Linked DNA regions of Homo sapiens. The main gene of each other region encodes a partner of the protein of the gene in region 2 in a complex. Each region holds a gene or a part of one and is shown on either strand. Other genes may lie near its edges. The genes, in order: CACNA1C, CACNB1, CACNG1 and STAC3.

Region 1 (7,021 bases), on a different chromosome or scaffold from region 2:
GTTCCCTTTCCCCCAACCACATATAGAAAAGCACTTGAGTTCAAAGGTAAAGCTTGTCACACTCCAAATACAAAATGATTTACTTTACATGCAGCAAAATATACAAGAAGTGAATCCGAAAACCAACTTAATTCAATTCATTATATTCGCTTGGCACAATTGCAATTCAGTTTTAAAAAAATATTTGAAAAATACTGAAACTGACCTGAATTCAAGTATAACGGTTTCTTCAACAGAAACATTATCAATGCAATAAAACATTACACGGAATATATTGAAGCAAAATGCCTTCTTGTGTTTTTCCCTTAAATTTCTGTCTTTTTTTAAAATACAGTTTTAATGCCAACACAACTCACAATTGTATTTTTAAATGAATATTATTGCATTGTTTTTGCATATCTTGTGGGACAGAAAATGCAAAGAGTTACTGATTCCCGTTTCAGAAGCAGAGACAGTGGTTTGTTTTTGCTTTCAAACGGCCCCAGATTCAGATCTTCCCACAGCTAAACCAGAAAGGGGGGACTGCGTAGTCACTGGTGTGCACGGGCACATGGTGTGGGTGCATATACACGGGCAGGACATATGCACACAGACAACCCACCACACACACACGCGTCGCACACACTCGGAGACTCTCTCGCGCATGCTCCTCTCTCCCAAACCCACCTGTACACCCAGCATAAAAAGGAACCCAACTCTATCACCCACATGTGCAAGACCACATCAAGTGCATTGCCAGTTACCTTTCCATTAGATAACCGAACCAAACCAGAACAAAAATAGGTTACTACCTAAGGAAATGATAACAAATTATTGGGCATACACAATGGTTGGTAAAACTCTCCTGCAGCGGCTTCTATTGAACCTCCGTGGAAAAAGGAAACCACAACCGTTTAAATAATACAAGAAAACCAAACCCGATGTACATTGGCAAAAGTGAAAACAGAAAGGTGAGGGGGCTACAGGACTTTGTAAACACTCTTCTTCCTCCCCTCCCGCTGGGAAAGCAAAATAAAACATTTAAAAAAAACCAAAACCGAAAAGAAACTGCAACATGCTGTCAAGAAAAGTGTCAAACCACAAAACAAAAGAGCGCTCAGCGGAAGCTCAGCACCACCTGGTTGGGCGGAGCCGGCGGCGCAGCTCCTCCCTCGCGCTGCCTGCGGGCCGGCGGCTGGCCGGGAGCTCGGCGTGGCCCGTGCCGGTCGGGGGATCCCGTCGCAGGTGGGCAGGGACGGAGTGAGCCGCACCACTGCCGGCCCGACGCCCATCCCCAGAGCTCCGCGCCCCTGGAGGCCTCCTCCTCCCTCTCCGGGCCGGGTTGGGGTCCTCCTGGAAGTCCTGCCCCGCTCCCTTCTCCAAATCCGCAGGGCCCTGGCTCTAGGGAGACAGCGAGGCTCGTACAGAATATGTGCAAATGGTTTCTACAAGCAGAGTCGAAAGACACCCGTTTGCTGTAGGGTCCTTTTGGTGAGGGCGCGCGGGAAGCCGGGGTGCTCTCCCCGCGGAGGCGCGGCCGGGCCCGGGGCCTGCGAGCTGGGAGAGGGCAGGCGCCTTCCTCGCGCCCCGGGACCCTCGCCGCCTCCTCTCCCCGCCTCTGCAGACGCAGCCGGGCGCCTTCCTCCCGGAGGGCGGCTCGCGCACCCAGGCTCCGCGTCTGGTCCCAACAGAAATGAATGAAGACGCTGTTCCGGTTAACTCCAGGTCACGAGAACAGTGAGGCACTTCTGAAACGAACCCATTAGGAACATTGAAACAAATAAAAAAAAGCCCGCATCTGGCAGCGCCCACTACAGGCTGCTGACGTAGACCCTGCTGTCCTGGAGCTCCTCCTCACTCGGTCGACCCCGCGCGCGCACACAGCCCGCGTCCTCTTCGCCCCCGGCTCGGTCCTGCCCCGCGTCCCTGCAGTTCACAAAGGGTAAGAGGGCGCCATTGGGGCTCTGTGGGGCGCCCCCGCTGAGGATGTTGTCGGCCGCGCTCTCCATCTCCTCTATGGTCATGTCGCAGGCGTCGGCCAGCTCCTGGGTGGTGACCTCGATGAACTTGGGATCTTGAGCAAACTGCCCCAGTCCTTCTGAAATCAAGACCTGAAGGAGCGGGGTGGGAGCCATGAAGAACCAAAGGAACATTACTCCTGGAGCCCAGCTCTTCCCTTGAGGGCTAGAGCGAGGGGGTATCTGGTAGGTCACTTGGGGAAGTGTGCGTGTGTGCACGTGTACGTGTGTGTGTTGGGAGGGGCACCCATGGGGAACAAGTGGAGATGGAGCATCTGCCAGAATTAGGGATGTGCAGGCCAGAGAAGTTTTGGCTGGGGTGGTCAAACACTGTCATCAAATATATGAAGACTTGCTTATGGCCCAGCACGGTGGCTCACACCTGTCACCCAGCACTTTGGGAAGCCCAGGCAGAAGGACTGCTTGAGCCCAGGAGTTCGAGACCAGGCCCAGGCAACACAGGGAAACTTCGTCTCTACAAAAAATTTAAGAATAATTAGCTGGGTGTGGTGATGCACACCTGTGATCTTAGCAAGGCCAGAGACTGAGGTGGGAGGATCATTTGACCCCAGCAGCGCCAGGCTGCACTGAGCTGTGATTGTACCACTACACTCCAGCCTGGGTGACAGAGCGAGACCCTGTCTCAAAAAACAACCAAAACAAAAACCAGAGAAGGTTTGGCTCTCAGAGGGGCCGGGGGGTTGCCCTGATGCTGTATCAGCAGATCCCAGCCTGCCTCTCTCCTTTCTGACACCCACTGAACCTTTATACTATTCTTTCAGAGAAACCATTCTCCCTGGTGAAACTGCTGAGACAGGCCCACTGCCCATTGCCTGCTGCTGCCTTTCCAGGGGTGAGGTATCTGTGCAAACACGGCGCATGCCCCTGCCTTGCTTCTGCTGGGAAGGGCCAGCAGGTGACCCTTAAGCTTCTCTGTCCTCCCTACCGGCTGCTTAGTGCCTGGCTATGGGAAAATCGGCTCCTGAGCCAGCGGGTCGGGGGAAGCTGAGTGCAGCCTGGCACTCGCTCCTTTCAGGCATCTGTTTGTCTTGCTCCTTGCCCACGCCACTCATTCTCTCCTTGCCCTGCTTAGTTTTTCTTTGGCACTCCTGACCTTCCTGATGTGTTATATATGTATGTGTTTATTATCTGTCTCTCCTCACCATGATGTGAGCTCATGAGAGCAGAAGCTCTGTTTCTCAGCTGTGTCCCTGTACCTAGAACAGGGCCTGCACATGGTAGGCGCTCAGGGAAGGTCTGTGAAATGAATGCAGGATGATCGAGGCCACAGGAATACCAGACTTTGAGAGGTAAACCTTGGAAGCCACCTGGTTTAACGCCCCACCTCCTGCACCACAGCCTGACGCCCGGATGAGCACAGTCTCTGCTTGGCTATGTCTGATGATGGGGGGCTCACTACCTTTCAGGCAAGCCCCTCTCATCTTGGAAGAGCTCATTTGGGAAGGTCTTCCCCATGTGAGCTGAAATCTGTCCGCTGGTGGGCTGAGCCTGCCACCCTTTCCCCATCCCACCCGTTGCAGGTGTGAGAGGTGTATCGCACCCTCCAAAGTCACCTCCTCTCCAGGTTTTCTTCCCGAATTCCCTGAAACGGTTCTCCTAGGAAATGGTTTCTAGGAACCTTGCCATCCTGGTCATCCTCTGTTGGGTTTGTTCCAGTGTGTCAAAGGTCCCTAATAATGTGGTGCCGGGATTGCACTAGATGCTCTGACCAGGCAGAGCACAGTGGGACTGAAAGCTCGCTTGTTCTAGGCTAGTGGCTCTCAACCTTGCTACACGTTAAAATCATCGAAGAGCTTTAACAATCATCAGTTAATCTGTCCCGGGTTTCCAAAGCTCCCCAGGTGATGCTCACGGGCAGTCAGGCCTGAGCACCTTGGATCTTGCCTGTCTGTGTATAAAGGCAGCCAGGCTCACATTTGCATGTCGAGCAGCTGCAGTATAAGGGATAAGTTGCTCAGTGGTTTCTGCCGCCCTCTGCAGTGGGCCCAGCCTCAAGAGAGCCCATAGCATCTTGTGCAGTCATGGCTTTCCGCACACGAGCCCTCCTGCAGCCCTGAGAGGGAGGGTCTTTCGGGCTCAGATATTGACTGCAATGAATTTGGCAAGAGCCAGGTGCTCCCTTCTCAGCCCCGCATGCCAAGTCCCCTTGTTGCCCGTGGCCTCTCCCCCCTGCCCATCTGCGAGTCACCTACCGCTTCCACCAGGCTGCTGGCACTGCCGTGGAACTGCCTCCCTGGGGCCCCAGCCTGGCTGGGCACCATGAGGGAGACGGGCCGGACTCTCCGGGCGGCGCTGCTGCCCCCGCCACCGGGGGTGGTCTCAGCCCAGGAGCCGCAGTGGATGGATGGGAAGCTGCTGTTGAGTTTCTCACTGGACTCGACCCCCTCAAGCCGCAGGGTGGGGACGGGCTGTGGGGGCCAGCCTCGGCTGCCAGGTGTGGCTGGTGGGGTGGCAAAAGGCCTAGGGAATGAGGCAGGGGAATGGCTTCTCTGGAGGAGGGGGCTCAGGCCTGCCACTGCCAATGCCTGCGGACACACAAGGAGTGTGAGTTAATAGGAGTGGCCGACCCCAAACAAGGCAGGCCCCTGCTTCTGAGCAAGCACTGCTTTGCAGCTGCTGTGTCCAGCTAGCTCCACCTGCCTGGTATTCCCATGCCATTATTTTCCCCTGTCGGTCCTATCTCAACCTGGCATGACTTTCAACTATCTCAAAATACATCTTAGGATCATCTGGGTCTGAAGTGATCTCTTTCTCCTGTAACTTCTGAAAGCTGGGATTGGGTGAAGTCGTGGTAACCTGCTTTTAGCCCTGGCCTGGTCACCTGTCAGCTGTGCATTCTCTCGCTCTTGGTTTTGTCCTCAATAGAATGGAGAGCAGGGTGAGGCCTGCATGTCTGTAAAGCCAGAAAACGAATGCTGTCTATCCATCTGCCCTGTGGGGCTGGTGTGAGGCTCAAGCGCAATGAGGTCTGTGAAGAAGCGCTGTGCACCTCACAAAGAGTTGGGAAAACCAGTATTTGTGGTTTTAGTTCTCACAGTTAATGGGGCCATTCATAATGCCCTGCCAGTCTCTAGCTCAGGTTGTCTTTGAGCCATTGTTAAATCCGGTGCTGTATTGTGATTAAAAGATTCAGGGCTGGGAGCAGTGGCTCATGCCTGTAATCCCAGGACTTTGGGAGGCCAAGGCGGGCAGATCACCTGAGGTCGGGAGTTCAAGACCAGCCTGACCAACACGGAGTAACCCAGTCTCTACTACAAATGCAAAATTAGCCAGGCATGGTGGTGCATGCCTGTAATCCCAGCTACTTGGGAGGCTGAGGCAGGAGAATCACTTGAACCCGGGAGGTGGAGGTTGTGGTGAGCCGAGATCGTGCCATTGCACTCCAGCCTGGGCAACAAGAGCAAAACTCTGTCTCAAAAAAAAAAAAAAAAAAGTCACACGGTACGCCCTCTGTCCCTGAATATTCTTGAGCATCCTGAGGGTAGGGACCAGGCCTGTCTGGCTGTTGCCATGACAACCTGCCAGGGCAGAGGCTCTGCAGGGTGAGCTGCTCTGATGGGATGTGCTCCCGGGAGAGAGCGACACTGTGGTGGGGAAAGACCACCTCTAGGGTCACAGAGTACAGGAGGAGAAAGAGATGAAGAGGAGAGTTTCGTGCCTACCAGTACGACAAGAACAGATAGGTGAAATCGACTTCTAGAAATCTTTTAAGATAGCACACACAGTGTCCCCACATCCTTCCACCTCCTGCCCCTGCCCATGGTGGTCCTCAGCCTGGGGCTCCTGGGTCCCTGGGAATCTGAGAAAAGTGTAAGGCCATATTCATTATTTCAGAAAGCCCAGTGGAAGACAACACCACACAGGCTAAGAAAACCTGTTTATTTTTTGGAGCTGAAGTACTATCAACTCAGCCAGGCCACACTGGCCATCTCATGCTGATTATGACTTTTGATTGGCAGTTGAATGCCTTTGGGTACAAAGCATAGGTCTATTTAAAACATAGGTCCATGCTATAAAAGAGTATAACTTTAATAAGGTCAGAATGTTGGGAAACCCAGGTTTAGACCTCAGTTTGCCTGGGGTTAATAGACTGGCCTTAGATAACACTGAAGTTCAAAGATACTAAGGCATGTTTGGTCCTGGCATCTTGGATTTCACTGTCTCAGCTGGAGTCAGCCATGCCAAGAGACATTTCATTTATGGAATCTCCCTGGACCTGCTTCCCACGGATGTCATTCCCTACTCTTGACCATGTTGCTGGTGGGTTCTTTAATCACTTCTTTATGTCACTGGATGGATTTTTGTGTGGCAAAATTTCCAGGTATATTCAAACTCTAGGTACAAGTACATCTTCCTGAGTGCCCTGAGGCATAGGCCAGTGTCAGAGGCGTCAGTGGCATCTGTGGCAGCCTAAGAAGAAAGCTCAGGTGGAACCTGCAGCTGTGGGTCCTCAGGATCACACAAAGAGCTCCTGTGCACCAGCACTTCCTAGGCCCCCACCTGCGATGCTGCAGACCTTGCCGTGGCCCTCACCTGCACAGGAGTGTGAAGCCCTACAGGGATGGCTCTTAGGGCAGGGGCAGGACGTGCCAGCCATCTGAGACAGGCAAGACCCACTGAAGTCTTCAGGATTTGTCCGTCACCCTGGGGACTGTCTGGCCTGCTGGCAGGTGACAGTGGCCTGTCCAAAAGTGTGAGCTACCTGATGATGAACCAGATGCAAGGGCAGGACTGTCTTCTGAGAGATGTCTCCCCCTCGGTCCTTCTGTCGCTTCAGACATTCCAGGTGGAAGGAGGCCCTTCGACCTGCAAAGCCAGCCAGAGAGCCACCATCAGGGCAGGAAAACAGGGCACTGGCCTGTGACAGTTTACACCCTGGTGGGGTGCCAGGAGCAGTAACTATGGCCCGAGACGCTCCTCCTTTCCCCTCCCCTCGTCTGAGACGTATTCTGGTGTCCAGGGCTCATCCCTGCACACCCTGCCTTTGGAATGTTGTCTCCTTG
Region 2 (7,021 bases):
TCCTGACAGTAGTGGTGGTTACTTGGATGTTTACTTTATAATAGTTCCTTGAAATGTGTATGGACATGGGCAGGGTGTGGTGGCTCACACCTGTATTTCCAGCACGTTGGGAGGCCAAGGTACGTGGATCATCTGAGGTCAGGAGTCCGAGACCAGCCTGAACAACATGGTGAAACCCCGTCTCTACTAAAAATACAAAATTAGCCAGGCGTGGTGGTGGGTGCCTATAATCCCAGCTACTCAGGAGGCTGAGGCAGGAGAGTTGCTTGAACCTGGAAGGTGGAGGTTGCAGTGAGCCAAGATTGTGTCACTGCACTCAAGCCTGGGCAACAGGGCAAGACTCCATTTCAAAACAACAACAACAACAACAAAATGTATACTGACACTTTGGGAGGCCAAGGCAGGTGGATCGTTTGAGACCAGCCTGGCCAACATGGTGAAACTCTGCCTCTACTAAAAATACAAAAAAATTAGCTGGGCATGGTGGCACACACCTGTAATCCCAGCTACTCAGGGGGCTGAGGCATGAGAATCATTTGAATTCAGGAGGCAGAAGTTGCAGTGAGCCAAGATGGCACCACTGCACTCCAGCCTGGATGACGGAGCAAGACTCTGTCTAAAAAAAAAAAAGTCTGGGCGTGGTGGCTCACGCCTGTAATCCCAGCATTTTGGGAGGCAGAGGCAGGTGGATTCATGAGGTCAGGAGTTCAAGACCAGCCTAGCCAAGATGGTGAAACCCTGTCGCTACTAAAAATACAAAAATTAGCTGGGCGCAGTGGCAGATGCCTGTAATCCCAGTTACTTGGAAGGCTGAGGCAGGAGAATTACTTCAACCAGGGCAGCAGAGTTGCAGTGAGCCGAGATCATGCCACTATACTCCAGCATGGATGACAGAGTGAGACTCCGTCAAAAAAAAAAAATGTATACTGAATTGGCTTGTGTGGTTTTCTCCATGTATATTAACTTTTACAATAAAAAACAAGAAAGCAAAATGTGGAATTCAGCCCTCTCAGGGTAGAGGCGGGGCACTCAGGAATGAAAAGGGTTGGGGGTGGGGAAGCCCACAATGATACCCAGAAAAAATAATAATAATAGCAGGCCGGGCACGGTGGCTCACTGCTGTAATCCCAGCACTTTGGGAGGGCAAGGCAGGTGGATCACTTGAGGTCAAAAGTTCGAGACCAGCCATGACTAACATGGTGAAACTCTGTCTCTACTAAAAATACAAAATTAGCATGGTGTGGTGGCACATGCCTGTAATCTTGGCTACTTGGGAGGCTGAGGCAGGAGAAACACTTGAATCTGGGAGGTGGAGGTTGCAGTGAGCTGAGATGGTGCCACTGCACTCCAGCCCGGGCAACAAGAGCGAAACTCCGTCTCAAAAACAAAACAAAATAAATTAATTAAATAATAGTTATAGGCCGGGCGCAATGGCTCATGCCTGTAATCCCAGCACTTTGAAAGGCTAAGGTGGGTGGATCATGAAGTCAGGAGTTCGAGACCAGCCTGGCTAACATGGTGAAACCCCGTCTCTACTAAAAATATAAAAATTAGCTGGGCGTGGTGGCACGCACCTGTAATCCCAGCTACTCAGGAGGCTGAGGCAGGAGAATCACTTGAATCTAGGAGGCAGAGGTTGCAGCAAGCCAAGATCGTGCCATTGCACTCCAGCTTGGGTGATGGAGCAAGACTCCGTCTCAAAATAAAATAAAATAAAATAATAATAATAATAATAATAGCAGCCAGGCACAGTGGCTCACACCTGTAATCCCAATACTGGCTTGAGGGAAGGAGTCTGAGACCAGCCTGAGCAATATAGGGAGATCCTGTCTGTTTTGTTTTGTTTTGTTTTGAGATGGAGTTTCGCTCTTGTTGCCCATGGTGGAGTGCAATGGCGCAATCTTGGCTCACTGCAACCTCTGCCTCCTTGGTTCAAGCAATTCTCCTGCCTCAGCCTCCCAAGTAGCTGGGATTACAGGCATGCGCCATCACACCTGGCTAGTTTTGTATTTTTAGTAGAGATGGGGTTTCACCATGTTGGTCAGGCTGGTCTCAAATGCCCGACCTCAGGTGATCCACCCACCTCAGCCTCCCAAAGTGCCGGGATTACAGGCGTGAGCCACCGCACCCAGCCAGCCCTGTCGGTTTTTAAAAAATAAAAGGGGCAGCTGGGCACAGTGGCTTACGCCTGTAATCCTAGCACTTTGGGAGGCCGAGGCAGGCAGATCACCAGGTCAGGAGTTCTGAGACCAGCCTGGCCAACATGGTGAAACCCCATCTCTACTAAAAATACAAAAAAAAATTAGCCGGGCATGGTGGCGGGCGCCTATAATCCCAGCTACTTGGGAGGCTGAGGCAAGGAGAATCGCTTGAACCTGGAAGGCGGAGGCTGCAGTGAGCCGAGATCGCACCACTGTACCCCAGCCTGGGCGGCAGTGCAAGACTCCATCTCAAAAATAAATAAATAAATAAAAGGGGCTGGGCACAGTGGCCCATGCCTGTAATCCTAGCACTTTGGGAGGCCGAGGCAGGAGGATCACTTGCACCCAGGAGTTCAAGACCAGCCTGGGCAACATAGCAAGATCCCATCTCTACAAAAAATAAAAAATCAGCCAGGTGTGGTGGTATGCCTCTATAGTTCCAGGTACTCGGGAGGCTGAGATGGGAGGTCAAGGCTCCAGTGAGCTGTGATCACGCCGCTACACTCAGCCTGAGTGACAGAGAGAGACCCTGTCTCATAAAAAATAATAAATATTTAAATTTATTTATTATTATGTTTTTTGAGACAGAGTCTCGCTCTGTCACCCAGGCCGGAGTGCAGTGGTGCGATCTCAGCTCACTCCAGCCTCCGCCTCCTTAGTTCAAGCGATTCTGGTGCCTCAGCCTCCCGAGTAATTGGGATTACAGGCGTACACCACCACACCCAGCTACGTTTTGTATTTTTAGTAGAGACGGGGTTTCACCACATTGCCCAAGCTGGTCTCGAACTCCTGACCTCAAGTGATCCGCCCAACCGGGCCTCCCAAAGTGCTGGGATTACAGGCGTGAGCCACAGCACCTGGCCTAAAATTAAATTAAAAAAAACAATAATGACAGTAATGACCATTTAGTGTTCCAGGTACCATGTTACACACTTAACACATATTCTCTCATTTATATTCATCACAAAAATAAAAAATCCTCTGAAGTTAAGTGGTATTATTATCTTCCTTTTAATGTGACTTTCCTAAGATCACACAGCTATTAAGAGTCAGGACCAGGTCAGGCACGGTGGCTCACGCCTGTAATCCCAGCACTTTGGGAGGCTGAGGGGGGCGGATCACAAGGTCAGGAGATCGAGACCATCCTGGCTAACATGGTGAAACCCCGTCTCTACTAAAAATACAAAAAATTAGCCGGGCGTGGCAGCCAGAGCCTATAGTCCCGGCTACTTGGGAGGCTGAGGCAGGAGAATGGCGTGAACCCGGGAGGCGGAGCTTGCAGTGAGCCGAGATCATGCCACTGCACTCCAGCCTGGGTGACAGAGCAAGACTGCAACTCAAAAAACAAAAAAAAGAAATTTTTAGCACTTATCAAGCCCTTATTATGTGTGGAAACAGTATAATAACACGCACTTATTATACTTATTATACTGTATAAGCAGGCAGGTATTATAGCCCACATTGTGCAGGTGAAGGACAGAGGAGCAAGGTTCAGGGGTACTAGGAAGTGGCTGGGTCAAGACTTGGCCCTGGTTCTGTCTGGGCTCTCTCTACAGCCCAGGACTGGGGGAAATCATGCCAGCACAGCCCCTCCCCACATCTTTCTCACCTTGGCCTTCTCGAGCTGCGCTAATGCCTGGCGCTCTGCTTCCTTCCTTAAGGCTTCCCGGTCCTCCTCCAGAGATACATCAGAGTCTGATGGACGGCTGGTGTAGGACTCCGCTGAGCCCTGAAAATAGAGAGAGCCAGATCAGGGCCATTGCTGCCCCTCCCAGCTCCTGGGCCTGGGAAGGCATGGAGGTGCCACCCATCATGGATGCCTCGAGCCCCAGCCAGCCCAGCATGACACCACAAGGGCTAAGACAAGGTGGTATTAGGTGGAAGGGACCAGGAGCTGAGATTTCTCAGGCCCCTGGGGAAAGTGTGGCCCTAGTGAGGGTGACAGCAGCAAGCAGGAGATGAAGGCAGGCCCAAGGACAGCTGCTTGGGGCCCAGGGAGGGGTGGGAACCTGATAGGGGCACAAGGCAAGGGAGGAATGCCAGGGACGAGTCTCTACTCCCACTGCTCCTTCCCTCCCCTGCCCCCAGCACCCGCTGAGATAGACTCAGCTGAGGTCCAGTGGCATCCATTCCAGGGACTGCAGCCACCAGCTTCGGCCTGAGCTCTCTGCACTATCAGCCGTGGACGGCCTGCTCCGCAGGATGGGGCCACCACAGATTTTGCCAGCTTCTGTTCAAGGGTAGAGGGAGACAGACTCCTACCTCCCCTGCTCCTCTTAACTGGTACTGCCAGAATCAAACTTCACTACTTACAGCCCCAGTCCTCAGGCTCTCCTAGGACACAAGAGAACCCAAGAGTTCCAGGCTGGTACAGACCGAAGAGGCAAGTTAAGAGCAGGATATGGGACAGGGCTTTCCCTGAAATGAGGGCTGCTGGGTGCCAGACAGCTGGCTTTGACCACAATGACCAACCCAGAGCACAAGGGACTCCTTTAGGGATGCACACATATGTGTAAGACACATGTTGCCCGTACAGACCTGGTAGTGGGAATGCACGTGCTTCTTCATGTGTGTGTGTGGATGTGCAAGTACAAGTGTGTGGAGGAGGGTGTGCTCTATAGTTGGCTGCATATGACTGTGTGTGTACAGCCACATGTGAGTGTACTGGGGGGGAGCTCCCAGACATCTGTGACCCTGAGGTTGGGGGACATGTGAGGGCAGGAGGCAAGAGGTGTGGATTTGTGTGACTATGCAGGGGTGGTGTTGGACAAGGCATAGGAGGTTATGTGGCAAAAGAGGAGGACTGCAGGGATGTAGGGGTTCTTTCCTGAGGGCAGAAAAGGGTCACTTGGCCAGGAAGGTCCATAAGTTTGGCATGGAGGGGACCTGGGAAAGACAGAAACAAAGTCCCACCTCTCCCCAGGGGCCTCAGGTCATTAGCTGGTGCAGCTGCCCATCTCTTTCCCAGACAAATAATGAAAATGGGAGACCCGCGGAGGAAGGGTTGGGGTGGAGCGGGGGTCACTAACAGAAGTGGGGAAAGAGGCATGAAGGAGAGAAGGAGAGAAAACCAGCGTAGCTCCCCCTCTCCCCCCTGATGGGAGCACGCAGAGTCAAAGAGCCAGGGAAACAGACAGGGAGACAGACTAGCAGAGAGGCACTCACCGACCCCAACACACACGCGGGCATGCGCGTGCACACACACACTCACCAACCCCAACACAAATGCAGGCATACGCGCGCACACACTCACTGACCCCAACACACATGCAGGCACGCGCACGTGTACACATACACACACAGTTACATGCACACACACAGACACACATGCAGACGCACATGTGCGGGCAGACACACACACATATGCAGACACACAGGTGCACACAGACACACATGTAGGCATGCGCACACATACACACACATATGCAGACACATGTACGCGCATACACACGCACACATCAGAAATGGCAGAAGACAGGAAACAGTGAGGAGGCATGGAGACACGCTGGAGTAAAGGCTGCCCTCCGTCAGCTTTCCTGAGAGGCTGTTCTACCCGCTGCCACCCCACTCCATCCCCAGCTCACCACCACCACGGTCCGGCTGGGCGCCTCCATCCCGGCACCCTCAGTGCCTGGCCCTGCTGGCCTAGGGGGTGGCCCAAACTGCCCGTTCCCTTGGGGGCTCGGGTTACAAGCAGAGTTGCTACATGTGCAGACTGCTAGGGTATATTTAGCTCAGAGATGTGGCAAGGACTGCCCCCCTCCACCACTCCCCACCACCTACCGGGGATCAGAGCTGGGGAGCTAAAAGGAGGAAGAATTGGAGGCTGGGGTCTGACTCCCTGGGTTGGCAAACACTGAAGGAGCCAAGGTCCTTTTCTGCCAAGAGGGGCAATAAAAGCACAGCGTCATTCTTCCCAGCCCTGGCCATGTCCTGCAACAGGAGGGATGAGGGGGTGATTGAAGAAAGGACTTCCTGTCTGTTCCTATACTTAGAAAAGGCTAGAATGAAGCCTCCCCTTCCTGAACCTCCCAAGTCAGACTGAGGCTCACATGTGCCAAGTGCTGTAGAGACAGAAGAAACGGAAAGAAGGGCCTCACTCTAATTAGTGGTGGATCTGCCTGGCATCACCCTCGCTCCTGGCCCAAGGTGGAAGGGAGGGGCTCATCTCCAGAGGACCCCTCCTCTGTGCTGTCTTCTGCCCTCAAATGCCCTGCCCATTTCCTCTTCAATACACGCCTTTTCCTTGTCTAATCCCAAGCCCCTCTCGCCTTTTTTGGGTACCAGGCTTTGGTGAGATGCTAAGTAGTCATAGCAACCACATGCCTCTCTCAGTCCCTCACCCTGAGCCTAAGATGGCCCAGGGTTGACAGATGAGAGCAGCCGCTTACTGACTGAGCACAGAAGACCCCAGAAAGCTATTCTCAGTTACACCCTTTCAGGCAGGGGTGCTGGGCTATCATCTTCTCTATTATAAAATCAACAGCCTCATGCCTCAACCACCCCCACCCCCGTCACCATCACCCTTTCTCTGTGCTTCTTAGACAGTCATGTCTCGAGGTGAGGAGCGTGTTTCCCTGGCCAGGACCTCACCAGGACTACAGGGACCCAAACATCCTTGCTCTGCTTTTCCTAGGACCTGCCTCCACCCAACCCTGTCACAGATTCTGGGGGAGGACATGGAAGCAGACAGCCGGCAGGGGGAGTGGGTGACAGCCCGAAGCAAGCTGGAGGGAGGCAGGCCAGGCTGTCCCTGAATGAGATGACGCAGGCCAGCAGGCAGCAGGGGAGGGTGCCTGGTGCTGGGGGAGGGGCCGGGC
Region 3 (7,279 bases), about 28 Mb from region 2:
TCACCAGACAGGTCAAATAATGACAACTCTCTGGGAATGGGCCTTTGATCCAACCCCATTCTCTCCCCTCCAGAGGCTACTGGGATGCTGATTTTCACTGTGATTACGGAATGTTGGTTTGCAAGGTTACCACAGAGCTGGGAAAGGGAAACAGGAATAAGGCAAGTTAAAACACCACAGAACTCACTGGTCCTCCTGAGATTCACCCATTTTTCTTGCTGGATTGCTGCAAGACTTTGGTTAATTTCCAGAGTTCTGAAAATGTTGATTCTGACCATTTCTGCCAGCCTTCTCATTACTATTATGGAGAAGATTATTTTTGGAGGTTCTTTTTCTATCATTTTTTTTCCTGATGTCTTTCAAAGTTAATATATGTAAAGCGTTTACAACAATATTTGGCACACAGGGCTACATGTATGTGCCATTATTATTATTGTTGTTAATAATAGATGACGGGCCACATATGAACCCACTTCCTCCCTCCAGAGAAGAGTGGTCCCAGGGAGCACAAGAAGGGCAGATGGGGAAGGAGAAAGATGTCCATTTGCAGAGAAAAGAGAGGGAAAAAGGCAGGAACATATTTTGGAAGATTACTGGGGGAAAGGTAGTGCTCAGTGTCACAAGTGTGGGAGGTGTGGTTCATAGCTGGTTAGGCTAAGAAGGCAAAGAGGTAGATCCTGTCAGGCTCAAGGCCAAGCAATGCCTGTTGGCCCCCTGCAATTGGTCCAGTCACCTCTCACCAGCCTGTCTCTTCCTTGTGTGGATTCTGCTCACTGCCCAGTCTTCTGCTCTGACTTTAAAAGGCAGATGGTTCCAAGGACGGGTGAACAGGACTGTAACAGCACGTCCCCATGTGTGGTCCCTGAAGAAGCTGCCTTGCCCTGCCCTGCCCTGCCCTGCCCTGCCCAGGGGAGTTGGCTGGAGGCTGTTCCTGTTTATGGGTGTGCTCAGCAGTGGCCAAGGGGCATGGGCATCCGGGCTATGCGATACCCTGCAAGCACATGGCCACACCTGTCACTCTCAGCCCTGGGACTTGGTGTTTCTACAACAGCTGGGCACTTATGAGTCTTCTGGGCCTCCAGTGGGGCTGAACAAGGGAGGGGATCTCTGGAGCAAGCAGGAGGGAAGGAAGAGGGAGCAGAGACAAGGGAGGATGGGGTCTGTGCTCTTTGCCTCACAAGCAGACTGCAAGATCTTTGGGGACTTAGCCCTAGTGTCCTTGAAGGACAGGTTTCAAGGAACACCTAGTCTGATAAAAGAGGAAATAATCCTGAAAACCAGGTGGGACATCACACTGACATCACTCTGCTCCACTGCCACTGTGGATGGGCGTCTGTAAGCCGAGGAAGGGATCTCACGTTGCTGAGAGTCAGTCCCATATTTTATAGAGGAAGAAGCAGAGGCTGAGATGAGCTTTGTCCTCCCTGGATGGTCATTTGAGGGTAGTGGGCAATGGCGATTAGATCCCTGGCTGCCTGGTCTCCATGAGCACTCTTTCCTCTAAAGTGCTGTATTTGCTAAGAATCCAGAAGCCTCTGCATTTGCAGAATAGAGGCTAGTCACGCGACTACCAGGTACTCCTGAAAAGGACCTTACCTTCAACGTGTGGTTCGGTCACACGGTAGGAAATCGAGGAATACGCTTAAATTACAGGGTGAGGAAATGCTTTGTAACTCTGACAGGGTCTGAGCTAAGACAGGATGCATAGAGGACTGAAGTCCTGACAAAAGGACAGGTGGAGGTCGGGCATGGTGGCTCACGTCTGTAATCCCAGCACTCTGGGAGGCCAAGGCAGGTGGATCACCTGAGGTCAGGAGTTCGAGACCAGCCTGACCAACATGGTGAAACCCCGTCTCTACTGAAAGTACAAAAATTAGATGGGTGTGGTGGTGCATGCCTGTAATCCCAGCTACTGGGGAAGCTGAGGCAGGAGAATCGCTTGAGTCCAGGAGGCAGAAGTTGCAGGGAGCCAAGATCATGCCACTGCACTCCAGCCTGAGCGACAAAGTTGTCTCAAAAAAAAAAAAAAAAAAAAAAAGAAGGTGGGGGCAGGTGGCTCACCTACAGCCTACAGCCATGTCCTGCTTCACAGACATTCAACCTGTGCAGCTGCTCCAGGCCCAGAGCCCACAAGGGCCCATGTGTGGTTTCATGTGCTGCTGTCACTGCCTTGAAATCCTTGGTAATTTGGAGCAAGGAACCCTGCATTTTCATTCTGCACAGGACCCTGCAAATTCCATCGCCTATGCTCTCTCCTCTCCTGCCTTGAGGCCAGGAACAAACCTGCCAGCCCCATGGGTCCCCCTAGCCTGAGGACACAGAGCCACCTAGCTTTTCTTTGCAGGGAGAGAGTGAGCAGGTGGGGCCCAGAAGTCCCTGGGCTGGTAGAGCTGCAGTTCCTTTCTTGAGCCTGCCCAGCTCTCTGCTCTGGGCAAAAAGCCCCAAGGTCCAGCCAGACAGAAATAGCTGGGACAAACGCCCTCGTCTTACAACCCAGCCCCAGCCACCAGCACCACACATGCAATTCATATCTTCTTCCCTGGGCAGAAAAGGCTGGGCGGCTGCCCTATTTCTAGGCAGAGAAACCTGCCTTCCTTCGCAAGGGCAACTTTGCCAGGGGGATGACGGGGAAGAGCAGGAGGTGGGGATCGGGACGGAGGGTGGGTACGTTACCCCCGGGCAGGGTGATGGGCCCGCAGGTCTTGCTGTCGTCCATGGGGATGCGCTTGGTACAAATCCGCCAGAGGCCGAAGTGGGCCGCCTCGCAGGTAGTGTTGTGGTGCTCCATGTGGGGGCTCAGCACAGCCCAGTGGTCGGTTACCACGGCTGTCATGGCCAGCACGATGCCTGCCAGGATGCAGAAGAGGGTCACGCGGACCTTCAGCATTTTGGTCTGGGACATGGTGGTCGCCGAGGCGTGGGTGCCCTGGGCAGGGTCCGGCGGCTGCGTCTCCTAGGGCAGGTGACAAGCCGAGCTTGGGGGGTGGCAGTGGTTGTCGAGCTGGGAGTGGCCACTAAGTTTAGTGTGCCTGGCTGAGCCAGAGTGGGCTGGCCTTGGGGCCGAGGGACGCGGGACGTGCTGAGCAGCTGCCCAGACGCGTCAGGGGCCTGAGGGAGGCTGCTATTAATGCCCATCTCCAGGCGTGGCACCGAGGACAGCTTCTGCTCGGGTTTCAGGGTTTTCTGCCCCTCTGGGAGCCAGAAATACCCCAGTGCGGCGGGGCAGGGTGGCAAGGAGAGAAGGCTCTGGATGGTAGATTGAGGCCTCTGTGAGTAGCAGCTCAGGGTGCCTGAGTTGGGAGAGGGCGAGAGGTGGGCAGCAGGGCCCCGGGGGTGGGGATCTGCCTGCTCTGGGCTGATGGGAAAGGGCAGCCCAGGCCAGGGGAGGAGACCAGGAGCTGCGGGCTGCACGGCTGTCCCGGGCTCCCACGGGGTAAGCCTGTTACCGGCAGGGCAGTGAGTAGGTTCTCATCCTGGGATCTGAGGGGCTAGGATTCTGTCTAATGACATCCCGGGAACCCAGTCCAGGGCCTGTGGAGTCCACCTCTTAGGCAAGCGTTTTAGCCACAAACCCCACGGCATCCCCCAAACCATAGGAAGGTTTTAGGTGGTTCCCAGGTCTGGCCTTACCCAACTCTGATCCCTCCACGAGAACATTACTTCCTTTTCAATTCTCTTTCCATCCCCAAAACTGGGTCCAGAGCAAAGCTCTGTTCGAGGTCAGTGTCATTATTGCCTGTAAAGTGTCCTTTGAAACAAAGCGAGAACGGCCCGAAGAGGACGAGGAATCCTGCTGGACTTGGTCATTCTGTTTTTCAGGGCACTGTTTGGTTTTGCCTTCTATTAACAGCAGGTGATAACGACTTTCCAGTTATGTTTGAATTTGAAAAATAAGTGTGTGAGTAAAAAAGAATGAATAGGTTGATTTATAGGGGATCATTAGGAGCTCATGGGCGTGCAGAGAACACAGAAAGCCCGGGATCGACCACCCTCCGACGGTCCTGTGCACCCGCCTGGCCCCCAGGCTGGTCTCCGAGGCTCCAGCCTCTACATCTCTCCTGGGTTGTGTCATCTCTTCCTTCTCGGCTCACAGGGTGGCCCTTTTTGGGTGTAGCCGAGAGGCTGACGCATGACCAGGAATAGCCTCCTGAGCTGGGTGGGGCCTTGAGCTTCAAAATCCTGGCCTCAGATTGACACGATTTACAGAGACTCTGCCCATGTGGACAGAAATGTTTCGGCCTCCAGCCTTAGAATCACAGAAAGTTCATGATGATGATAATCAGAACAGTGGCTCATCTTCAGTGAGTGCTTACTATCTACCAGGTACCCTGCTAAGCCTTCATCCATTGTCACAGTTACTCTTCACACCAATCCACAAGGGGACTACAACGGTTACTGCCATTTCACAGACAAGGACATGGAAGCTCAGAGACATGAAGTCACTTGTCCAAGGTCACACAGCGAGAAAATGAGGAATCCAGGTTTCAGGACCCAGAGCCCAAAGTCATAACGAATGGTTGGAACTGGGAAGAAACTTCATGATCTATTGTGACAGATTAGGAATCTGCAGCCCAGAGAGGAGATGTGAGGAGCCAGGACTACCTGGTGAACAGCCCCAGGGCTGAGCTGAACCCTCGCATCTCCAGCCACTGGCTTGTGCTTATTGCAGTTCCATCCAAACTTCCATATTTTTAAAATCAGTCTCTCATACATATTACAATCTCCTGAGAGCTTATCTCCCCACTGTTCTCATCTCTGCTTCCCTTCCTCCCTGTCCCCCCACCTCTGTGTTCCCTGTGGGTGCTAATCCATCACAACTGACTGATCACTGACTGACTGTTGACATATGCCACCGCCCCTGCTTCAGCTCGTGGAGAAACTGCCTGTCACCAGGTGGGTAGACCATCTCCATGGGGAATTCCCAGAAGCTGGGACATGGCTGCAGCCTCTGAGCCCTCTCTTGTTGTTTGTGGGGGCCCAGCTTCAGGATCCTGGCACCTGGGGATCTCAGGAGGTGCTGTACAGCTTGATTAGACCTACTGAGTGCCAGGCACCCAGCAAAGCAGTAGCTGGGGAGCCAGAAGAGGGTTCCAGTGTTTTAAGACAGAAAATCTAGAAAGAAGCTATTTAATTTTAGCATTACAAGTAAATACAGTGTCATTGGAAAAATGAAAGTGTCTTTTGAATTTCCTGGTGTGGTGGGGGTGGATGCCCTAAGCTCTTCGGTGCCAAGAGCCTCTGACGGCCTTGGAAAGCACCCTGAAAGGGCCCAGCCCAGAGGGTGCACCCAGCGCCAGCCATGATGACATTGCAGGCCCTTCAAAGATGCCAGGCCTTGGTGAGGACAGCAACCAGGAACTTCTGCTGCTCTTTCCCTCCATGGGGGGCAGGTTTGTGCCCCATGCAGGGGTCCAGAGTCCTCCGCCCCAGTGCAGTGAAAGCATTAAAGATTGATGGCCTCTGCCTTTTGAAGTCATCTTTGTGTAAGTCGCACCAGGAGACCCGCAGCTGCAGCTACTGCGGGCAGGTCCACTTTCTCTTCCCTGTTTACTGAAAGCTCCCTCAAATACACCTTTTCTGCTCACAGAGGTGCTGCCGCGCTGCCTGCCTGGTTCCCCAGGGGCCTGGAAGGGCCAGGAAGGGACTTCAGTAGCCACAGGCATTTGCTGAAAGTTGGGCAGGGCAACATCCATGTCCTCCCCCAAGATCTCACCCTTTCCAGGGCAACAGGGAGAGGAGCATCTCAGGGAGGCAGCATGCGAGAGGGGGACCAAGCTAGAGGGTGATGGAGCTGGCCAGCCCCGAGCAAATCCCTGCACTGCTTGGCTCCAGCTGTGCACGTTCCAGTAAGTCATTAGCCTTTCTAAGCTGCCTCTTGTAAAATGAAGGCAACGGGCCTGGCTGCGGAGCAGGTGGAAGGGCTGGAGGGAGTGCGTTGGACCAGCTTAGCCATAGTAGGCGCTATGGGCTGAATCATGTTTCCCCCAAGTTCATATGTTGAAGCCTAACCCCCAGTGTGATGGTGTGTAGAGGTGGGATCTTTGGGAGATAATGAAATGAGCTCATGGAAGTGGGGCCCTTGTGATGGGAGCAGTGTCTGTATTAGTCTGTTCTCACACTGCTAATAAAGACATGCCCAAGACTGGTAATTTATAAAGGAAAGAGGTTGAATGGACTCACAGTTCCACATGGCTGGGGAGGCCTCACAATCATGGCGGAAGGTGAAGAAGGAGCAAAGGCACGTCTTACATGGCGTTAGGCAAGAGAGCACGTGCAGGGAACTGCCCTTTATAAAACCATCAGATCTTGTGAGATTTATTCACTATCGTGAGAATAGCAGAGGAAAGACTCACCCTCATGATTCAATTACCTCCTACTGGGTCCTTCCCATGACACAGAATTATTACAATTCAAGGTGAGATTTGGATGGGGACACAGAGCCCAACTGTAGCAGTGTTCTCATAAGAGGAGACCAGAGAGTGGCCGTCATGCATTTAATAGAGTACTGAGTACTTGATTCAGCGAAGGACGTAATGGTAAGAAATCAATCGCCCTGGATGCCTGGTACTCACAGTGTTGTGGGAAATTTGGGGGGCTCTTTCCTGTTCTGTTCTCCAGATGTTGATGCTTACTTGTACCCCTGAGATGTTTTTATCCTATCTGCACCAGTCCAACTCCCTTTGTTTCGCAACCCCCCTCTGCTAGCCTCCACTTCTGGCAGCTTTTTCTGGCTGCCCTGCCACGGTGGCCATTTCCCTCCCCATTGATCCAGGACCCTCCTGAGGACTCCAGAACATACAGGCCAGCCAGGGCTTGGGCCATAGTTAAGTTGGGGCACAATAAGGCCCACGCTGGGATTTCTGTCCTGCCAAGCAGAAGACCCACTCCCTCCCCTTGAGGAGTCCACAAACTGTTAGGGCAGCTGAGATCATACTGGGAGGGGCTGTGGGGTCTCCTGGGACAGAACTCAGCCTACGTGGAGAGGTGTGGAGAATAGGAGCTCCAGGCAGGACATGGGCCCCTCGGGAGACTTGAGCCCGCAGCTGGGGTTCTCAAAGTGCGCCCTGTACACCCCTGCAGGAGGAGAGCAGGCAGCCCGTGATTTAAAGACTTTTATGTTTCTTTTTTTGAGATGCAGTCTCCCTCTGTCACCCAGGCTGGAGTGCAGTGGTGTGATCGCAGCTCACTGCAATCTCCGCCTCCAGGGTTCAAGCAATTCTCCTGCCTCAGCTTCTCAAGTAGCTGGAATTATAGGCATGTGCTATCATGCCCAGCTAAT
Region 4 (7,613 bases), on a different chromosome or scaffold from region 2:
AAACCAGGTGGCTGTAGGATGGGATGAGAGGAAGCATTAGAGGTAGCAAAGTAAGGTCCAGAAGCCTATCTCTCCCAGGAGTGCTCACCCTTTCTCAGAAAAAGAGATGGGCTGAGAAAGAAAAAGCAGAGAAATGAATGGGATGGAGGAGAGACCAGCAAGGGGTAGCTGGCTGGTGACATGTCCCCTCTTTTTTTTTTTTTTTTTTTGAGACGGAGTCTCGCTCTGTCACCCAGGCTGGAGTGCAGTGGCACAATCTCGGCTCACTGCAAGCTCCGCCTCCCGAGTTTACGCCATTCTCCTGCCTCAGCCTCCTGAGTAGCTGGGACTACAGGCACCTGTCACCACGCCCGGCTAATTTTTTGTATTTAGAGACGGGGTTTCACTGTGTTAGCCAGGATGGTCTCGATCTCCTGACCTCGTGATCCGCCCACCTCAGCCTCCCAAAGTGCTGGGATTACAGGCGTGAGCCACCACGCGTGGCCATGTCCCCTCCTTGCTCTCCACAGCCTACTCACGATCTTGCCGAAGCATCTCTGCATTTCCACATAGGACTGACAGTGTTCATGGATGTTGGTTTTGCAGTTCTTACAGCGAAGCCCAAACTTGTTGTTGACTTGGGAAAGGGGGAGAAAATTCAGATAAGGTTCCAGATTGCCCTTTCCCTTTGTACCACTGCTGCTACTCTTAGGTTTCCTTTTCTGTCTGGGACCCTACTTGCTCAATCTCTAATAGCATTGCCTTACACCAACTCTAGCCACAGCCCATCTGCTACAAATACTCCTCTCCTATGCCCTCTCCCCAAACCTCTGCCTTCAATATCATACTCTCTTCACTTCCCTTCATGACTCACGAACAATCATCCGGGCACAGACATCACAGAACTTTGGCTTCTTGAAGAAGTGATCTTTGAATTTGTGGGGCTTATCGTTGACCAGCTTAGGAGGTTCTGGGGGTGGCTCCTCCTCCTCCTCTTCTTCCTCTTCCTCTTCCTCATAGATGTAGTAGATGGGCCCACCCCCAGCTCCCACTGCCTCCCCATTGGCCTGGGGCTCTGGGGGAAGTTCCATCTCCTTTGTCCCTGTAGAACCCTTCCTGAGTAACTGCTTTAGCCGCTGTAGCTGAGGGAGGGAGTGAAGAAAACCCAATGTTAAAAGGACTTGTCACCCTCTCTAGAGTAGGGGGGCGCTAGAGCAAACTAGACAGTTTTCTAGTTTCAGGCAAGGAATGTACCCCAGGATTAGGGGGGTATTGGTATTGGGGACTGCAGGTGCTGGCCAGCAAAAAATGAGTCACACACAAATGAGATCAATTTAAGCACTCTTCTTCAGCTGTAATGGCTTCCCAGCCCCCCACACCCAGTGGTCAGAGGCCCAGACTCACCCCACTTTGCCGAGTCTCTGCTGGGAAGGAGGGCTTAGGGGACTCCAGCACCTCCTTTTCTGTCATCCTGCAAGAGGTTGGACCCCACTATGAAATCTAATCCCTTTCATTCTTCTCTCCCTTTCTGTCCCTTGCAGTAGGGTGGTCCTCAAAGGGGAGGCTTTCGGAGAAATGTGATGAGAGATTTTGCTGTTGTTACTGTTGAGATGGGGTCTCACTCTGTCACCCAGGCTGGAGTGCAGTGGCGTGATCATGGCTCACTGCAGCCTCGACCTCCCAGCCTGAAGCGATCCCCCTACCTCAGCTTCCTGAGTAGCTGGAACACAAGGTGCACACTACCTGGCTACTTTTTTATTTTTTGTAGAGACATGGTCTTGCTTTGTTGCCTAGGCTGGTCCCGAACTAGCTCAAGCAATCTTCCTGTTTCAACCTCCCAAATTGTTGAGACAGGCGTGAGCCACTGCACTGGGCCAAATACAGATCCTTTGGCAGGTTTTATTAACAGATTTCATGGAGGTCTAGAAAAAAGCTTAACATGGCCGGGTGTGGTGGTGCATGCCTGTAATCCCAGCACTTTGGGAGGCTGAGGCAGGCGGATCACTAGAGATCAGGAGTTCAAGACTAGCCTGGCCAACATGGTGAAACCCCATCTCTACTAAATATATAAAAATTAGCCGGGTGTGGTGGCGGACGCCTGTAATCCCATCCACTCAGGAAGCTGAGGAAGGATAATCGCTTGAACCCGGGAGGCGGAGGTTGCAGTGAGCCGGGATTGTGCCACTGCCCTCCAGCCTGGGTGACAGAGCAAGACTTCGTCTCAAAAAAAAAAAAAAAAAAAAAAAAAAAGCCCAACAGACTAAAGAGCTTCCCAATTAGTTCCTCAAACTGATACTCATCCTTCCATCCTGAGGGGCGACCCCATAGTTTACAGCCCTTACACAGTGTTCAAAGCTGCGTGGTTTACGTCATTTTCCTATAGGTACTTTGTTTCTCCTGGAAATCTGTGGGCAACAGAGATGTGATGCATACCTTCCCAGATCTCCTCTCTTCAAGAGGTTTAATGTGTGTCCTCGTGTGCACACAAGGAAGGATGGACTGGAGACATTTGTCCTCCCCTACTTTTTTCTTGAGCCCTGGGGGCCCTGTGCCTAGTTCTGTCCCAGCCTGCCTCAGGGCTCAGCTATTTTAAGTTTTCAGGGTAATATGAGCCTTTCCTTCCCTTACTACTTCATTCCCTTCACCCCACCCCCACCCCCACCCCCCGCTTCAATCCAAACTCATCCTAGAGTAGAATAATAATTTTACGCCTAAAACCCAAAAGACTCACAGACAAGGAGAGAAATGAAGAAGCTGAGTAGATTATAGATCAGGGCAGCTGGGGTGAGCAGTCGTGGAAATCAAGAGGATGAAGAGGTAACTTACGTTCGGGATTCCCTAAGTCAGTCCACAGGCTGTAGAGGGAGCTGGGAGCCTCGAGGCCTTGATGGTGGTGCTGGGGAAAAACTGGTCCTCTTCCTTGGGGGCTAAGCCCCCCCAGTACCCCCTGTGTTCACACCAGCTACCCAGTCGCTATTTGTAGACCTCCTAGCCTCCTGCCTTGGTGTCAGGGCTGAAATGACAGGGCTGGAGGAAAGTGGACAGCTGAGAAACACAGCTGACACAGAGAAATTGGACACTGAGAGGTCTGGGGCAGGGCCGGACCCTAACTCCTCCCAACCCCCTAGAGCTGCTGTTCCTTGATTCTTCATCTAAGGCGAACAGGTGAATAATGGCTGAATTCAGGAAGGGACAGTTTCTGTTCATGCTCATTTAACATTTAAGGGGAGTTTATTTTTATTTTTCATTTATTTTTTGAGACAGGGTAAAAAAAGACTAATTTGAACTCATAGAGCTCTCCTATCAGCCATACTAGATGGCTTTTTTTTTTTTTTTTTTGAGACAGAGTCTTGCTCTTGTTGCCCAGGCTGGAGTGCAATGAAGCGATCCGGGCTCACTGCAACCTCCCAGGTTCAAGCGATTCTCCTGCCTCAGCCTCCTAAGTAGCTGGGATTACAGGCGCCCACCACCACGCCAAGGTAATTTTTGTATTTTTAGTACAGATGGGGTTTCACCATGTTGGCCAGGCTGGTCTCGAACCCCTGACCTCAGGTGATCCGCCTGCCTTGGCCTCCCAAAGTGCTAGGATTACAGGTGTGAGCCACCGTGCATGGCTAGATTGCTTTTTATCTGTAGGTGGTTGGAGGAGTACTTTGCTATCCTGTAAGAAAGTGAAGAATATGTAGTATTGCTTCATTCCCTCCAGCAGCTCCCAGAGACATCTCCCCACCCTCCTTCTTGTAAAATTTTGTCCTCAGACTGAAGGGAATTACCAGGGCTATTAAAAAGGGCCAGTTAACACTGGACAGAAGCATATAGCTGCCACATAAGGAATTTTTTAAATCATTTCTAAGTAATGTCCCCTTCCTCATGAGAACTGCAAACTCTTAAAGGTAGGATGGCCAACCCTCACACTTCCTAAACCCTTTTGATTCCCTGATTCCATCTCCCACCTTTGATGCCTCAGTATATAACTGATGGATCAAAGAGACAGATGCCATTCTCATCTCACAGGGGTGCACCCTTCTACTCTTTGGGCTGTGACATGGATGAAAGAGGAGATACTCCCATCTCAGGGGAGAGCAATTTAGAGGTGGCAATGCAGTGCTGCTCTATTCCTTGTATCTGTAAGAAATAAAGGACTGTGTTGGAGACTGGGTCAGGCAAGCTCCTGTAGGATCGTCGTTAGGGATACAGCTACTTGGACCCAAGAGATTTCCAGGGCAACGTGCTTTGTCATTCTCACCCACTACTTTTTTCTATTTAAGGGGGGAGTTTGAAAAGGGGGTGCAGGATGGTTCTGACTCTGCAGGTTCTTTAATGGCCCTGCTCTGACAGGCTGCAGAACAACAGGGCTTGCTTTGAGATGCTCTAAAGGAAAAGCTCCATCTTGCAGGCAAGATGACTTCTGCTCTTCGTCTTTTTTCAGCCACATAGGACAGGGACTGCTGAGCATGTTTGGATAATACAGCATCTTGGCACTGCGAGTTCAGTTGCTGTAGCTTTCATTGTAATAAAAATCTGCTTCTGTCCCTGACAGGTAAAACCCAATCCTCCAGCTTTAGGATTAAAGAAAGGCAGCCAGGCACGGTGGCTCACGCCTGTAATCACAGCACTTTGGAAGGCCGAGGCGGGTGGATCACAAGGTCAGGAGTTCGAGACCAGCCTGGCCAACATGGTGAAACCCCATGTCAACTAAAAATACAAAAATTAGCTGGGCACGATGGGGCACAGCTACTCAGGAGGCTGAGGCAGGAGAACTGCTTGAACTCGGGAGGTGGAGGTTGCAGTGAGCCGAGATATCGCGCCACTGCACTCCAGCCTGGGCAACAGGGCGAGACTCCATCTCAAAAAAAAAAAAAAAAGAAAGGCCCAAGTTCTCCATCCCTAAAGGGTTTTCAGAAGACGAGCTGGGCTGGGAGTGGTGGCTCATGCCTGTAATCCCAGCACTTTAGGAGGCCAAGGCGGGAGATCACTTGAGCCCAGGAGTTCAAGACCAGCCTGGGCAACATGGTAAAACCCTGTCTCTGCCAAAAATAGCAAAAAAAAAAAAAAAAAAGATTAGCCAGGCATGCTAGATCGCGCCTGTAATCCCAGCTACTCGGGAGACTGAGGCACAAGAATCGCTTGAACACGGGAGGCGGCTGCAGTCAGCTGAGATCTGCCACTGCACTCCAGCCTGGGTGACAGAGCAAGACCCTATCTCAAAACTCAACTACAAGGGCCCTAAATGAGTACACAGTACCACAGAATTAATAGTCTGGAAGGAAACCTAGAGGTCACCTACTAAGTCCAAGTCTCTTATTTTACTGATCTGGACACAGATCCAGAGTTGAGAAGTGATATGCTCGATGAACCACAGTGGCAGAACCGGGAGAGCCCAAAGCCATGGTCCCATTAGAGATCTAGCCATCTATCAGAACCGTGTACAGGGAAGAGGATGAGACAGAGGGAATGGTGTTAAAATAGTGTGCGTATGCTAGAGAAAGCCATCCCAACCCACGACAAACACCTCCAACAGCTGTAGGGCTATACCTACCCAGGGCCTCCAACCCTTTACCCATACCAGGGCGGCAACAGAGAAACAGTGACTGATGTCCAGTGACAGATTTTTTTTTTTATATTTAAAAACAAAACCAACCTCCCCCCAAATAACCCCCAAACAAACAAAAAAACAGATTAAATAAAATTTACAGTGAATATACCCAGCAAACATCTGTATGTGCAATTAAATACTGTGTCTGTTACTGCGGCACGAACCTCAAACAAACAATATACAAGTGTTCTGGGGGGGCCAGGGGAATCCCAAGTTTTAACTCTGTGGGGTCTAGGAAGACAAGATGGGGAAGTGAGAGAATGGGGCAATCAATTTTGTTTATCTTAATTCTGTCCATATAAATATATTCATAAAGACCAAAAAAGGAAAGGAAGCTTGGGATGTTAAGGTAATAGGAGGACAGTGTGGGACTTTCCCAATTCTACCTGACCAAAAAATGAGAAATTAATTTTATGATAGGAGAAGAGATTTAAAAAAATGATAGAAGAGGATGGAAGCCAGGCACAGTGGCTCACGCCTGTAATCCCAGCACTCTGGAAGGCCAAGGCAGGTGGATCACCTGAGGTCAGGAGTTTGAGGCCAGCCTGGCCAACATGGTGAAACTCCGTCTCTACTAAAAATACAAAAATTAGCCGGGCATGGTGGCGCGTGTCTGTAGTGCCAGCTACTTGGGAGGCTGAGGCAGGAGAATCACCTGAACCCAGGAGCTGGAGGTTGCAGTTAGCCAAGATCGTGCTACTGCACTCCAGCTGGGGTGACAAGAGCGAAACTCCGTCTCAAAAAAAAAAAAAAAAAAAAAAAGAAGAGGATGGGAAGAAGAGTGATGCAAGGGGGGTCAACCAGGGAAAAAGAGAGGACCCATGGCAGGGGAGCAAGAAGGAGTCCAATGCCAGTGTAGGTATCTGTGTTTCCATCTTCATCACTGTCTTAGGTTCCAGTTTAACATCAGTTTCCTTACTTCCTGCCTCTGTCCATGGTCTGTCAGGATCCTTCAACCCCCTCCACCCTGCCCTTGCTCCTTCTGTGACAGTCCCTTTCCCCTCCTCCATTTATTGGGAGCTGGCTCGCTCCAGGATCCTCAGGTCATAGTTCTTTTTGGCCATTCGAAGTTTGAAGCGACTCACGGAGTTGTTGAGACGAAGGGAGGCATTTTGGGCAGCCAGGGGGCTGGGGAACACAGCCACAATGGTGTACAAGGCAGCGAGGTCCGAGTGGCGGCCATTCTCAGCAGTCCCACTGTTGTCCCCCCCACCCCCTCCAGGCAGCCCCTGAGCATCCTTGAGCCACTGGATCTTGGCGCCAGACATGGCGAGCTGCGTGAAGAGTTTGTCCGCCTCAGTACGGGTGATGCCCTCAGGGAGATCTGTCACCTCCAGCACCCGCCCCAGGACTGGAAGGGGAGGAGAGAGGACATGGTTGTGAGAGGAATAGGACAGGAAGGACTTGACAGCAGCCCAGCAGAGAAGTGTCCAGCTGACTAAGTCTGTATACAATGTCTTCAAAAGCCTGGCCTTTCTCTCTTAGCCCTTTCTTCCCCTCCCCACCATCCCAGCTCTGATCAGGGCAACTAGGAGAAAAACAAATGAACCTTTCTATTCTCCTAGCCCAGAGATACAGGAAAGAAGGGACAGGGAATCAGAATCCTGGGTTTCTGAGCTAAGAACCTATACCTCAGTTCTCTCACAAGGTGCTACTGCTATGAAGAAAATGTGGCTTTTGCTAATGTTCTTTAACAATAATGTATCAATCTGAAATATGTTCCATAGTTCCCTTCCCACTCAGAGGCTGGCTCAAATAGATTCTTCCTTCTTATCATCTCAGGAAGTCAAGTTTCCCTTCCTTTCCTTGTTTAGGAAATTGCTCCAAATCCCAAGACAGATCTTGTTCACCTAGTGGGAGGCTTGTAGGACGAGAGTTTCTCCCCCATATTCTCTACCAATCTTCTCCTAAACTGGGTCTAGGACTACCAAAGGTAGATGTCGTAGATTAGGGACAGGACACTAATTAGAAAACTCTTTGTTAATAAGAGGCAACTCCCATAATTGTGTTATTCCCACTTTTTACCATGATCTTCCTC

The links.
Region 1: CACNB1 (region 2) and CACNA1C share a complex: the UniProt entries of both Homo sapiens proteins name them as parts of the calcium channel complex.
Region 3: CACNB1 (region 2) and CACNG1 share a complex: the UniProt entries of both Homo sapiens proteins name them as parts of the calcium channel complex.
Region 4: CACNB1 (region 2) and STAC3 share a complex: the UniProt entries of both Homo sapiens proteins name them as parts of the calcium channel complex.

Annotation. Positions count from the first base shown.
Region 1 is NC_000012.12:2,685,969-2,692,989, reverse strand, and holds part of CACNA1C (voltage-dependent L-type calcium channel subunit alpha-1C), read right to left. Parts: intron 6,825-7,021; coding exon 6,721-6,824; intron 4,544-6,720; coding exon 4,211-4,543; intron 2,851-4,210; exon of another isoform or gene 2,780-2,850; intron 2,184-2,779; exon of another isoform or gene 2,091-2,183; coding exon 1,791-2,090; 3' UTR 1-1,790. UniProt on the Homo sapiens protein: Pore-forming, alpha-1C subunit of the voltage-gated calcium channel that gives rise to L-type calcium currents. Mediates influx of calcium ions into the cytoplasm, and thereby triggers calcium release from the sarcoplasm.
Region 2 is NC_000017.11:39,187,664-39,194,684, forward strand, and holds part of CACNB1 (voltage-dependent L-type calcium channel subunit beta-1), read right to left. Parts: intron 5,835-7,021; exon of another isoform or gene 5,816-5,834; coding exon of another isoform or gene 5,786-5,815; intron 4,432-5,785; exon of another isoform or gene 4,332-4,431; coding exon of another isoform or gene 4,293-4,331; intron 3,931-4,292; coding exon 3,811-3,930; intron 1-3,810. UniProt on the Homo sapiens protein: Regulatory subunit of L-type calcium channels. Regulates the activity of L-type calcium channels that contain CACNA1A as pore-forming subunit.
Region 3 is NC_000017.11:67,040,284-67,047,562, reverse strand, and holds the start of CACNG1 (voltage-dependent calcium channel gamma-1 subunit), read right to left. Parts: upstream 3,010-7,279; 5' UTR 2,903-3,009; coding exon 2,674-2,902; intron 1-2,673. UniProt on the Homo sapiens protein: Regulatory subunit of the voltage-gated calcium channel that gives rise to L-type calcium currents in skeletal muscle. Regulates channel inactivation kinetics.
Region 4 is NC_000012.12:57,248,188-57,255,800, forward strand, and holds the start of STAC3 (SH3 and cysteine-rich domain-containing protein 3), read right to left. Parts: upstream 3,001-7,613; 5' UTR 2,806-3,000; intron 1,544-2,805; exon of another isoform or gene 1,451-1,543; 5' UTR 1,450-1,450; coding exon 1,384-1,449; intron 1,122-1,383; coding exon 854-1,121; intron 617-853; coding exon 519-616; intron 12-518; coding exon 1-11. Other genes in the region: R3HDM2 (R3H domain-containing protein 2), read right to left, coding at 6,586-6,926. UniProt on the Homo sapiens protein: Required for normal excitation-contraction coupling in skeletal muscle and for normal muscle contraction in response to membrane depolarization. Required for normal Ca(2+) release from the sarcplasmic reticulum, which ultimately leads to muscle contraction.